Linked DNA regions of Homo sapiens. The protein of the gene in region 1 purifies or fractionates together with the protein of each later gene. This does not show direct contact. Each region holds a gene or a part of one and is shown on either strand. Other genes may lie near its edges. The genes, in order: TIMP3, LRP1B and FREM2.

Region 1 (3,655 bases):
GGTGTCTCTTTTTGTCTTTTTTCCCCAAAGTCCTAGGGCCTGGCATGGCATTCTGGGGGAGGAGGAGTTAAAAGGTGTTTCTATGGCAACTCCAGGCCCTGCACCCTATGGAAGTGTTTAGGAGAAGAATAAACTACATGCCGGCTTATAAGACACACTGTGGGGGAAAGAAAGGGACTTGGCAGCAGGCAGGATGTCTGTGGTCCCCCTCCCTGGCCAGTCATTGCCCCTGAAACTCCTGACAAAACCTTGACTCTAGAAGAGGAATGGGAGGGGGCTGGAGATGAAGAAGGCGGCCTCGGCCCGGGCAAATCTGCCCTGGCAGCTCTGTCCAGCTCAGGAAGGGGTGGGCTGTGCCAAGGGCTTTCTGAAAATGTGCGTGTGTGCGTGTGTGTGTGTGTGCGCGTGTGTGGCTTCTGCAAAGGTGGCTGGCAGGGCTGAGGGGGGTTGCAGCAGAGAAAGAGAATTTTGCTTCAGAATGCCAAGCCCTTCTCTCCTTCTCTCTTGCCGCCTTTGCATGGGAGGAATGGGGCTGTAGGATGAAGTGTGTTCGGGGCCTGCCTCTGAGCCTGTTGGGAATTTGAGCATGAGGCTCAGCTGGGGGGCCGGCTGCCAGCCCCAGAGGATGGCCCCTGGATAGCTCCAAATTGTTCTGACAGGGGCCAGTGCCAGCAGATTCTTTCAGTATCAGATCTGAGGTTGTCGTTTTAGCAAAGAAGCCATTTTCAAAGAAACCAGATCCATCCCCTCTCCCTCTTACACACAATTACACCTCAACACTGGGCTTTGCAACTTAAGGAAAATAGAAAGAATCAGACTTTGGAGAGGCGCCAGCACTTGGTAGGGCAAGTCTGGGGGACCCAGGCTGTGGATGTCTTGGAACCATGGAAGGAGGAGAGCTGCTATCCAGCTGGAGGAGGGAAGAGACATGTCTTAGGCCCCTCCTGGTTGCACGCACTTCCCAAATGCCATCTCTTTCACCCCCTCCCCCGACCCCCCACAGCAACCTTAAGAGTAGGTATTGCACCCATTTTTCAGATGGAAAACACTGAGGCTGAAGAGACTGTGCTTGTCCAAGGCCACCCAGTTGCTAAATGATAAAGCTAAAACGTATTATCAGTTATACCATGCTTCAAAAACCTTTCAACTTTCATTGACACATGACATTCTAAGGTGACCAGGAGATGGAATGGATGGTTAACATTTGAAGAATGCTTTTCTTCTACATCTGGGTTTTCTTTAAAAATATGAAGATAGCCAAAATGGCCAGAGGTTTTAATTAAACATCATCTTTAGGGAGGGAGAGCTTATTATTATTCTAGTGTATCATAGAGGAAAATTCTAATGTTCTTTGGCTATTAGATCTGGAAAAGACCCTTGAAACCATCAAGCCACAGTAATAAAAGGACTTGGTTTGTCTCACTGTGGCCCAAGGAGAAGTAAGGTTAATAGAGACAAGACATTTCAGGGCTTCAAGACTCTTCCCTTAAAGGTGGGATCAGTTAGGGCTCCCCAGTGGGAGGTACCCGGTCTGCCAGTGTGGTAGGAGGAAAGCCAGGGGGAGTCAGGAGACTGGGTCCCAGCTGGAGAAGGTGCCCCTCTGACAGTTCTGTGTCCCTTTCACAGTCCCTGGATAGATAAGGCTAGAAAAGTGGCCACAGAAGTAGCTTGGGTGGAGGGATTTTTGTTTGTTTTGCATGAACAGCAGGAACCATTCAGCTCCACTGCTGAATGGCACATTCCAACAGGTTCATTAATTAAAAACAAAAACAACAACACGATTCTCCATCGCACTTGGCTTTTACCATTCCAGCCAGTATGGACAAGGAGGCCCCTTCTTCTACCTTTTGTCATAGTCTACTCCTGGGTGGCCTTGAGAGGCAGGGTGGAGTGGTGGAAAGGCAATGGGGAGGGCAGATCTGAGCTCCACTCCTTCCTCTGGGGCTTGTTGGCTGTGTGTGCCTAGGCACATATGGGCTACCTTTGAGCTTTAGTTTTCTTATTTATACAAGGGGAATAACAATTTGTACCATCTTGGCCTGTTTTATCTATATTTTAAAAGCTACAAGTATATGAATACATTCTATGTCCATGTATGTATCTCTCTGTATATCTATGATATATCCATTTCTATTTATCATTTATCATCTATCTATCTATCTCTCTATCTAAAATCGGAGAAGAGTAAAATCCTTTCTGATTACTTTTTCTAACTCTAGTCCCTTCTCCAAATCCTTTTCTTCCTATACATTTACATACATAGGTATCCATAGCAAATTTATAGTAGTTTTTCCCTTAGAAACATGAATAGTAGAACATTAAACATCATGGAATACCACATAATACCACATATAGTATTCTGCTTGTTTCCCATTCAACAATGCGTACTAGAGATCTTTCTACTTAATATATATATAAAACTGTCAGAGGAGCACCTTCTCCAGCTGGGACCCAGTCTCCTGACTGCCCCCCTGGCTTTCCTCCCACCACATTGGCAGACTGGGTAGCTCCCCCTGGGGACCCCTAACTCATCCCCACCTTTAAGGGAAGAGTCTTGGAACCTTGAAATGTCTTGTCTCTATTAACTTTACTTCTCCCTGGCCACAGTGAGACAAACCAAGTCCTTTTATTACTGTGGATTGATGGTTTGGAGGATATATATATATAAATATATAATATATAAATATATAATTTATATATAATATATAAATATATAATATATAATATATATTATATATAATATATATTATATATAATATATATATATTATATTTACATATATATTATATATATAATATATATATTTCTTTTATGTATTTCATGAGGTTATAATTTTAAACAGCTAATAAGTATAGAGTGATTACTATGTGCCAGGCATTATTCTAAGTCATTAACTTACATTAACTCATTTAATTCTCTCAGTTTTATGAGGGAGGTGTGCTATTGTCATCTCCATTTTACAGCTGAGGAAACTGAGGCTTAGAAAAATGAGGTAACTCGTTTAAGGTTATACTGCTAGCAAGGAATACAGCCTGTATTTAAGCCCCTTCACCCTGGCTCTAAAATATATTTAACAACTATACTATAGGTCACATTATACCATATCATATTATATATACTACTACATACTCTTATATTATTATAATTATATAATATGCATTTTCAATTTTAATAGTTCCTGCCAATTTGGCCTCCACAGTGGCTGTGTTAACACAGTTCTTTTCATATATGCAACATGAGGGGATGGAGGAATGTTAGAGCCCTGTGCTTAAGAGACTCCCATGCTTCTCTCAAATAGAAAAACAATTTATAATTTTTATTGACTTACTGAGTGTTTTTTTTCCTTCTTTTTGTCTCTTTGAAAGGGAGCAAAATTAGGGCCACGAAGATCAAGTTAATGGGAGTATTTTCATAGGGAGAGGAAGGCTGCAATGCCAGGAAAGCTGTGACCCTTGACTTGTTGCATGCTGGAGTAATTCGGTTGAAGATAGCTTTATGTATTTATTTTGCTTTCAGAATAAGCAGTGGACCATTTATTACACCAAGTTGTTTGACTTTGAGGACTTACATGGACTCAGGTTCAAAGGTATATGTGGCTGTGTTTTGAACACACATACACAGGGTTTTGCTTTCTGACTCAAAGCTGTCCGCTGGC
Region 2 (3,655 bases), on another chromosome or scaffold:
TTGAAAGATGAGTAGAAATTCTGTATGGAAAAGTGGGCAAGGGCATTACGGGATGAAAGAATAGCCCATGATACCTTCGAAGGCATGGAGGTAGGTCATCAGAAACAGCTTAAAAGAAAACCTCAAGACAGGTCTATTTGCGTGAATGGAAATCTATACAACAAACCCCCATGGCACAAGTTTATCTAGGTAGCAAACCTGCACTTGTATCCATGAACTTAAAAGGTAAAAAAATAAATAAGTAAAAATTTTAAGAAAGAAAAAAGAAAGCCCCAGGGAAGTTTGAAATTGAAGCTTTAATATTTTAAGTGGATTAATAAAAGCAATGACAATTGATAAATCTTCTACTACAAATATTGTGAAAAATGATTATACCTTCAAAAATATGACACAGCAGGTCACAGATTAAAGATGTGAAAGGACAATAAAGCTAGTAATAAGTTAAAAATAATTTTGGCTTTTTTGAAACGTGGTAAGAATAGGAGTCTGAATTGAGGGTATGATGATGCTATTTTGAGCTCTTCTTTTCTAGACCTTAATGAATGTTTGGTGTTTGGCACATGTTCCCATCAATGTATAAATGTGGAAGGATCATATAAATGTGTGTGTGACCAGAATTTTCAAGAAAGAAATAACACCTGCATAGCAGAAGGTAAGATTATAACCACTATTGCAAATCCTATTACAATTTTGTTGTAAACATTTTATGGAGAAAAATGTTTTATATTTCATTCCAGCAACAGCTTCATTTCTGATAAAATACTTTTAATGATGATTAATTTGGCCAGTTGGTTAGTTAATATTAATGAATTTAATCTTAGATGGTTTATGGAAATGACTATGAAATATATGGTTACTGTTAAAATCACATTGTGTCATTGTGTTCAAAACAATTTTTCAAAAGGGGTAAAATTTTAAAAGCCAGTGTGATAGAATGTGAAGTATCTCTCTTGATGGTCTGCTCTAAGGGAATATGAGAAAAATTATACCCCAGGGATAAAAATAAACATTAGCATTATAAGGAGAAAGGAATTTTGAGTAAGGATTTTAAAGGTTTTAAAACAAGATCTTGCTTTCAAATTTAGAAGTCCTCCACTTACCAATATTATTTTTTAAAAAGATTAAATGATAGGCCTGGTGCAGTGGCTCATGCCTGTAATCCCAGCACCTTGGGAGGCCAAGGCGAGTGGATCACGAGATCAGGAGTTCAAGAACAACCTGACCAACATGGTGAAACCCCGTCTCTACTAAAACTACAAAAATTAGCCAGGCGTGGTGGTACACACCTGTAGTCCCAGCTACTTGGGAGGCTGATGCAGGAGAATCGCTTCAACCCAGGAGGCAGAGGTTGCAGTGAGCCAGGATTGCGCCACTGAACTCCAGCCTGGGTGACAGAGCAAGACTCCATCTCAAAAAAAGAAAAACAAACAAACAAAAAAAGATTAAATGATAAACTAGGGTTCTGGGCAATTGTAGGTATAGATTTTAATATTCATGTGTTTATGCTAAATAATACTGTAACTTCAATATTGTTGGCTACAAAGTATGATTGGACATTATTAAGATTGTTATTACAAGAAGAAAACAGGATGATGTAATGGATCAACTGTGGGCTATAGCATTTGATATGCTTGGATTTGAATCCCAGCACAGCACCTTTTAGACTGTGTGGCCTCAAGGAATTCACTAAAGTGTCAGAGCCTCAGTTCAGTTTCCATAGTTATAAGAAGTGGAGATAAACTGTGAAAGGCTTAACATAGCGTCTGACACATAATAAGCATTTGCTAAGTGACAGCTATTAACATTACAGAGCTGAAAGGCACCTCATGAGGTATTATTATTATTATTTATTTGCAGAAACTATGTATGCAATCGAACATCTCTTTAGGGCTTCGTTAATATTTTAATTGATAATTTTGGCATTTGCTTTAGGGTTTTACTTGTTAGTATGAAAATGACATTAGTACTCTATTGTAGGTGTCAAAACTTTAGAATAGAATGTTACACTTAGCAGGATTCTAGATAATTTAGAGATTATAGAACTTTAATGGAATAAATACTGATATCTTTTTATGTTAAAAGTTAGTAAGCATTTAAGATGTATAAATACAGTAAGAGGAAGATTCTTCATATTTTAATTTTTATTTCTTAGCCTAAAGTAATGATCACTCAGGTGCATAAATTAAGTAATCAGAAACTTTTGAAGCTTAATGAGTATACAACATAGTACTTGGATATTGACAATTGATGCATTATAACCTAGTGTATTGTGACTTATCAAATAATAATCTCTCTTCATAAAAGGACATTTATATGTACATAATTTCTAGCCATAAGGAAAGATTGGCAGTAGAAAAACCTCTATCAATAATTATTGTAAATGTTTAGATAAGTGAGTATCAGAAATAATAAGCCATAAAGACTAAAAGACAATATAAAACTGGTTGATTTTTGAGGAAAAACTGTATTAAGAATAATAATTCAAGATAATTTAAAAGTACAATTATTGCTTTTAACATTAGTTGAAATTTACTTTATTTTTGTATTTTATTATAATAATCTCCAGGCTCTGAAGATCAAGTTCTCTACATTGCTAATGACACTGATATCCTGGGTTTTATATATCCATTCAACTACAGTGGCGATCATCAACAAATTTCTCATATTGAACATAATTCAAGAATAACAGGGATGGATGTATATTATCAAAGAGATATGATTATTTGGAGTACTCAGTTTAATCCAGGCGGAATTTTCTACAAAAGGATCCATGGCAGAGAAAAAAGGCAAGCAAACAGTGGCTTGATTGTAAGTAAATACCATTGTATATTTGAAAGTCCATACCTTTTCCCCACCTGCTTTTTAAACAAAATTTATCTAATATAATATCTAATTATACTAAGTAATATATTCAATTATTCTCCCAATATTCTCCTTAAATAGAAATAATGCATTTCTCTACTCATTCTCATAGCTGTACATGATTTATTTTAGTTGCATGCTTTTATGTTTTTGCTTTAATGTATTTGACTATTATATAAGAATGCTAATGAATGACATATAACATCTCCAGAACATCTATTTCATAGTGCTTTACAATTATTATGAACATAAGCTTTTTTATCATGAGATGAGATTGGGAAACATCACTTTATTTTTACATTAGAAAGTAGCGTAATGCAGGGATAACTATTTCTCTTCTTACATTATCATAAATATACTTCTACTGTAGGGCAGGACATCAACTCAATAGTGTAACCATTTCTTCTGACTCCTGATAACTATATTTCAGGAAATATCCAAAACAGAAATATTGTGCACTTGTGTATGCTGGACATGTTGATTATCATGGTTATTGTTTTTGAGAAAAAATAAACTGGAACATGTTTCAATTTATGGTTGTAGATTAGATTATCCCTTTTTGTTTTAGGGCATGTCAAGTTATTGTGTGTTTTATATTTTTAAGTAACCTGGAAGGAAAATGACAGATAAATATGTGTTTTTATAGGGCCTGGCCCATTCCTGTACAACCAAAAAGTCAAGTGGTGTCCCAGCAGGATGTAATTGAAGCTTTGTGTTTAACAAAAATTAGAGGTTCCTATCTAGAAGTTCTCACTACTTTTTCTACTAGCATCTACCATAAACACTTGAACTA
Region 3 (3,755 bases), on another chromosome or scaffold:
AGCAGATGCCCCGTAGTTAAGAAGGGTGACTCCAGCACAAAAAGCAGCAGAGAATCATCTGAATCCATGTCAGTTGCACTCAGGGAAAGGGGCAGGATGGGCACTGTTTCACCCTCTGCCAGTGTCAGCCCCGTGTTGGCATTGAGAACAGGTGGCTGGTCATCCACAGGCACTAAGGTGATGGGGAACAGAAACTGTACCTGGTGCCTGCCTCCTCCATCCACCATGCGAAGCACCAGGTTGTCGCTCAGCGAGCCGTCTCTGTCATCATGCTGGTAGACCACCTGGCCGGCTGCCAGCTCAGCCACTGTAAAGCTCTTGGGAGCAGAGCTGCCACTGGAAGCACCCAGAATGACAAGGTGACCATGCCGGAGCCCAGCCACCACCTCTAGCCGCACTGCTTCTAGGTCATCCTCATCGCTGATGACCAAGTTTTGCGGACCACTGCCTGCAGGGCCTGTGAGGGGCCGAGACTGACCCTCATAGAGAATAAGACCGGTATTCCGGGTGACCACCGGAGCCATTGTGTTCATGGGCTTCACCACTACCATGAAGGCAAAAGGGTCTGAAGCTGCTCCTTCTAGATCCACTACCTCCAATTCCAGTTCAAAGAGGCGCTCCTGGTCAGAGTCTTCAGAAGGGGGCTGGTAGGCAATCTTCAGGAGCCGCAGATCCCTCTGAGTGAAGGAGGAAAGGGGCAGGCTGCGATCATCGGTGCTCACCAAGTAGCCCTGGCCAGGCTGGAATGGAGAAGTAAGGTTGAAGATCAACAGGTCAGAGGGAGACTCAGCATCCTCGGCTGCCAGCATGTCTGGGGTCAGGGCCGTCAGTACAAACTGGTCCACCTCCATCATCATCATGGCCACGAAACTGGGCTTGGGTGCAGTGTTCTCGGCCCCTCCTCGGATCCTCACCAGAACCTGGAAGTGCTCGCGTTTCAAAGCAGGGCTGCCCACAGGAGCCCCTCGTGAACGCAGCTCCACCACCATGGGTATCCAGTCCCTGTTTGGTGAGCGACTGGCGGCTGTGTGGCGATAGCGCACGCCTAGTTCCTGGAAAGCTTTGCAGTCCATCAGGAGAGTCTCCGGGGCGCCTCCCTCTCTGGCTCCTCCAGGGACCTGCGGGTAGTGGAGGAGTTCTCCATAGCGAGGCAGCGCGCCCAAGCCGGACAGGATGCCCACGCGGCACTCCTCTGTCTCGGGCTGGAAGGCGAACTCCAGGCTCCGCGCGTCCAGGGCATTGCTGGTCCCCAGCAGCTCTTCCACGACCAGAGGCAAGTTCCGAGTCACAACCTCCAGCTGGGTGAAGACCACCTCCACCTCCAGTACCAGTGGTAGCACTACTGCCCCTCCGGGCGCGTCATAGCGCAGCTGCAGCCGGACGCGGTCCCGAGACGGGCTGCGCGCGCCCAGGTGAGAGTAGCGCACCTCGCCAGGGCCAAAGTCGCACGGGAAGCGCTTGGGACTCAGGCGGCCCGGTCGCTGGGCCAGTGCGTCGTTGTCTAGTACCGAAACCGCGCAGCGGTCCCCGGGCTGCACCTGCAACACCAGGTCATGCAGGGGATCCAGCCAGACTTCACGGCCGAAAGGCACCCGGAGTCCGCGGTTCGCCAGCACTATGGCCTCCTCAGCAGGGACCCCTGCAGCCCCCGCGAGACCAGGGGACAGCAACGCCCTGCCGAAGGCAGCGGGCTGTGCCGGGACGCGGCTTACCAGTGACAGGAGAAGCAGCAGCAGCAGCAGCAGCCGGGGCGGCGGTGGCGGTCCTGGTTGAAAGCTGGTGGAGTTGCCTGTCCGGCGCGAGGATAACCCGGGAGTCCCGGCTGAGTGCATGGTCCCGGTGTTCGGGCTTGGACAGGTCAGCCTGAGAGCATGCGAAGTCGGTCCCCGGGCAGACAACAAGAGACACCGCCGGGAAGTGCCAGGAACTCCGCGCGTTGCCCGCGGGGTCCTCCTGTAGCCGGGGCTGGGCCAGAAGGATGGCAAAGTTGCGCGGCGCCGTCCGGGCTGGAGCCGCAGCCGAGGAGCCGAAGCCTTCCCAGGCCGTCCAGCTCCGCCGCTAGCGCCTCAATCGCGCGGAGAATTGAATCCCTCCACTTCTACTTTCCAGGTCCCCGGACCCTGGGCTTTGAGGGAAATCCCTCCGCTCGCACCCCTTACTCCAGTCCTCCCAGGTGGCCAATCGTTGGTCGGGGGAGGAGGTGCGGAGCTGAGGGTTGGGTAGTAATTTCTGCCAATCAGCTCTTAGAGGCCAAGGCGGGGAAACTGCGGGGAGGGGAGGAGATAGAGGCGCAACAGGTTGTCCTGGAAGTGAGGGAAGAAGTGGCCAGGAGTTGCCCACCCCTGCTTGCGCTACTCTCTGGGCTGCTATTAATAGATCTGGTACTCCTGCAGAGGAGCCGGAACACACTGCTGTGCTGGGTTCACTTCATCTGCCGGCGACCGAGGGTTACCCATTTTAGCCACCCCCACCCCTCCGCCCTAGTCAATGAAATCCCGCGCAGGGCATGGCCATTTCCCAAGGAAACTTGCAAACCCAGGGGAAAGTTAGACGCAATGCTTTTTGAGTTTGAAGCGAAACCCAGAGCGTTTGAGAAGAAATTCTGGGGCATATTTGCAAAAGGACAGCTGGAATTAAAAGCCATAGCTAGAGCAGGTTGCACTCCAGCCCAGCCCCCTTCGGCGCGCCCAGACGCTGCCTTCTCCTCGTGAATTACAATGGGCACAGTCCTCCGATTGGTGAGTTTTTAACAAGCCCCTCCTTTGCAACCGAGGTTCACAGAGTAAAAGGGAAAAAGGGCATTTGGAATGCGTGAGAAATGCAGTCTGATCAGAATTGCTAGTCTTGCACCAAAGAATAAATTCTAGGGAATGTGGCCCCAGGCGCTCCCAAATCCGACTCTGTTAGGGTAGCTGTCATTAGAGACGTTCCTGTTCTCTTCGCAGTAATTAGACCAAGCACAAACTAAATCTACTTGTCAGCATCACATTTCTTTGCATGCCACGAAAATTGATAAATATCCGGAGGGCACACTAAAATAGTTTAGCTCTCATTTCAGCCAACAGGTTTTGAAGTCAGAGCTTGAGCTCTTCCTGCCCCCTTGTGTTTGTTTGGTTTTAGTAGTGTGTAGATTCCCTTTCTAAAAGGTTTTTTTATCAACTCTCCTCCCCCCCTCAAAAAAGATCCCTTGTAATTTAAACTTAATCATTTTCGGATTGGCTCCTAAGCAATCATAGTCAGAATGTTTTATTTAGGATAATATTTTTTTTCTCCAGTAATGCAAATCTGATTGCTAACAGGAGCATAGAATTGGAGTAATAGTCATAATTAGCCATAATTGCCCTTTTCCTGCTCCAAGGGATTTTGAATTTGGAAAAGAGGGAAATATAAGAAATTGTTAATGTCTTTTTACATTTCAGTCTAAATTGAAGCTAGAAGGTGCCTATGGGAGTAATTTCAGTAAGAAGTGCCTATCCTTTTAAGCCTTTGTGTTTTCAGCTTGAGCTCCTCCAGACCAGGATTTTGATCCTTGCTTGACACAGTTACAGCTATTTTCCAGGCTGCAGCACAAACTCTGTACATAAGTATGGCTGGGAGATGCCAGATTCCTTTCCATGAAACCTACTGAGTGGTGTCCGTTTCCAGGAATCATAGACAGGAAGTTCTAAAATCTTTCAAAAAGAAGCAAGAGATCAATTTAAAGGAGTCACTCATCCAAGCAAGTGTGCAAGCACGCAAACAAGTAACATTTAGTT

Evidence for each region.
Region 2: the proteins of TIMP3 (region 1) and LRP1B purify together in Homo sapiens (affinity purification with mass spectrometry; one large-scale study listed by BioGRID and IntAct). This does not show direct contact.
Region 3: the proteins of TIMP3 (region 1) and FREM2 purify together in Homo sapiens (affinity purification with mass spectrometry; one large-scale study listed by BioGRID and IntAct). This does not show direct contact.

Annotation. Positions count from the first base shown.
Region 1 is NC_000022.11:32,804,640-32,808,294, forward strand, and holds part of TIMP3 (metalloproteinase inhibitor 3 precursor), read left to right. Parts: intron 1-3,655.
Region 2 is NC_000002.12:140,349,950-140,353,604, reverse strand, and holds part of LRP1B (low-density lipoprotein receptor-related protein 1B precursor), read left to right. Parts: intron 1-532; coding exon 533-652; intron 653-2,566; coding exon 2,567-2,808; intron 2,809-3,655. UniProt on the Homo sapiens protein: Potential cell surface proteins that bind and internalize ligands in the process of receptor-mediated endocytosis.
Region 3 is NC_000013.11:38,685,422-38,689,176, reverse strand, and holds the start of FREM2 (FRAS1-related extracellular matrix protein 2 precursor), read right to left. Parts: upstream 2,101-3,755; 5' UTR 1,833-2,100; coding exon 1-1,832. UniProt on the Homo sapiens protein: Extracellular matrix protein required for maintenance of the integrity of the skin epithelium and for maintenance of renal epithelia. Required for epidermal adhesion. Involved in the development of eyelids and the anterior segment of the eyeballs.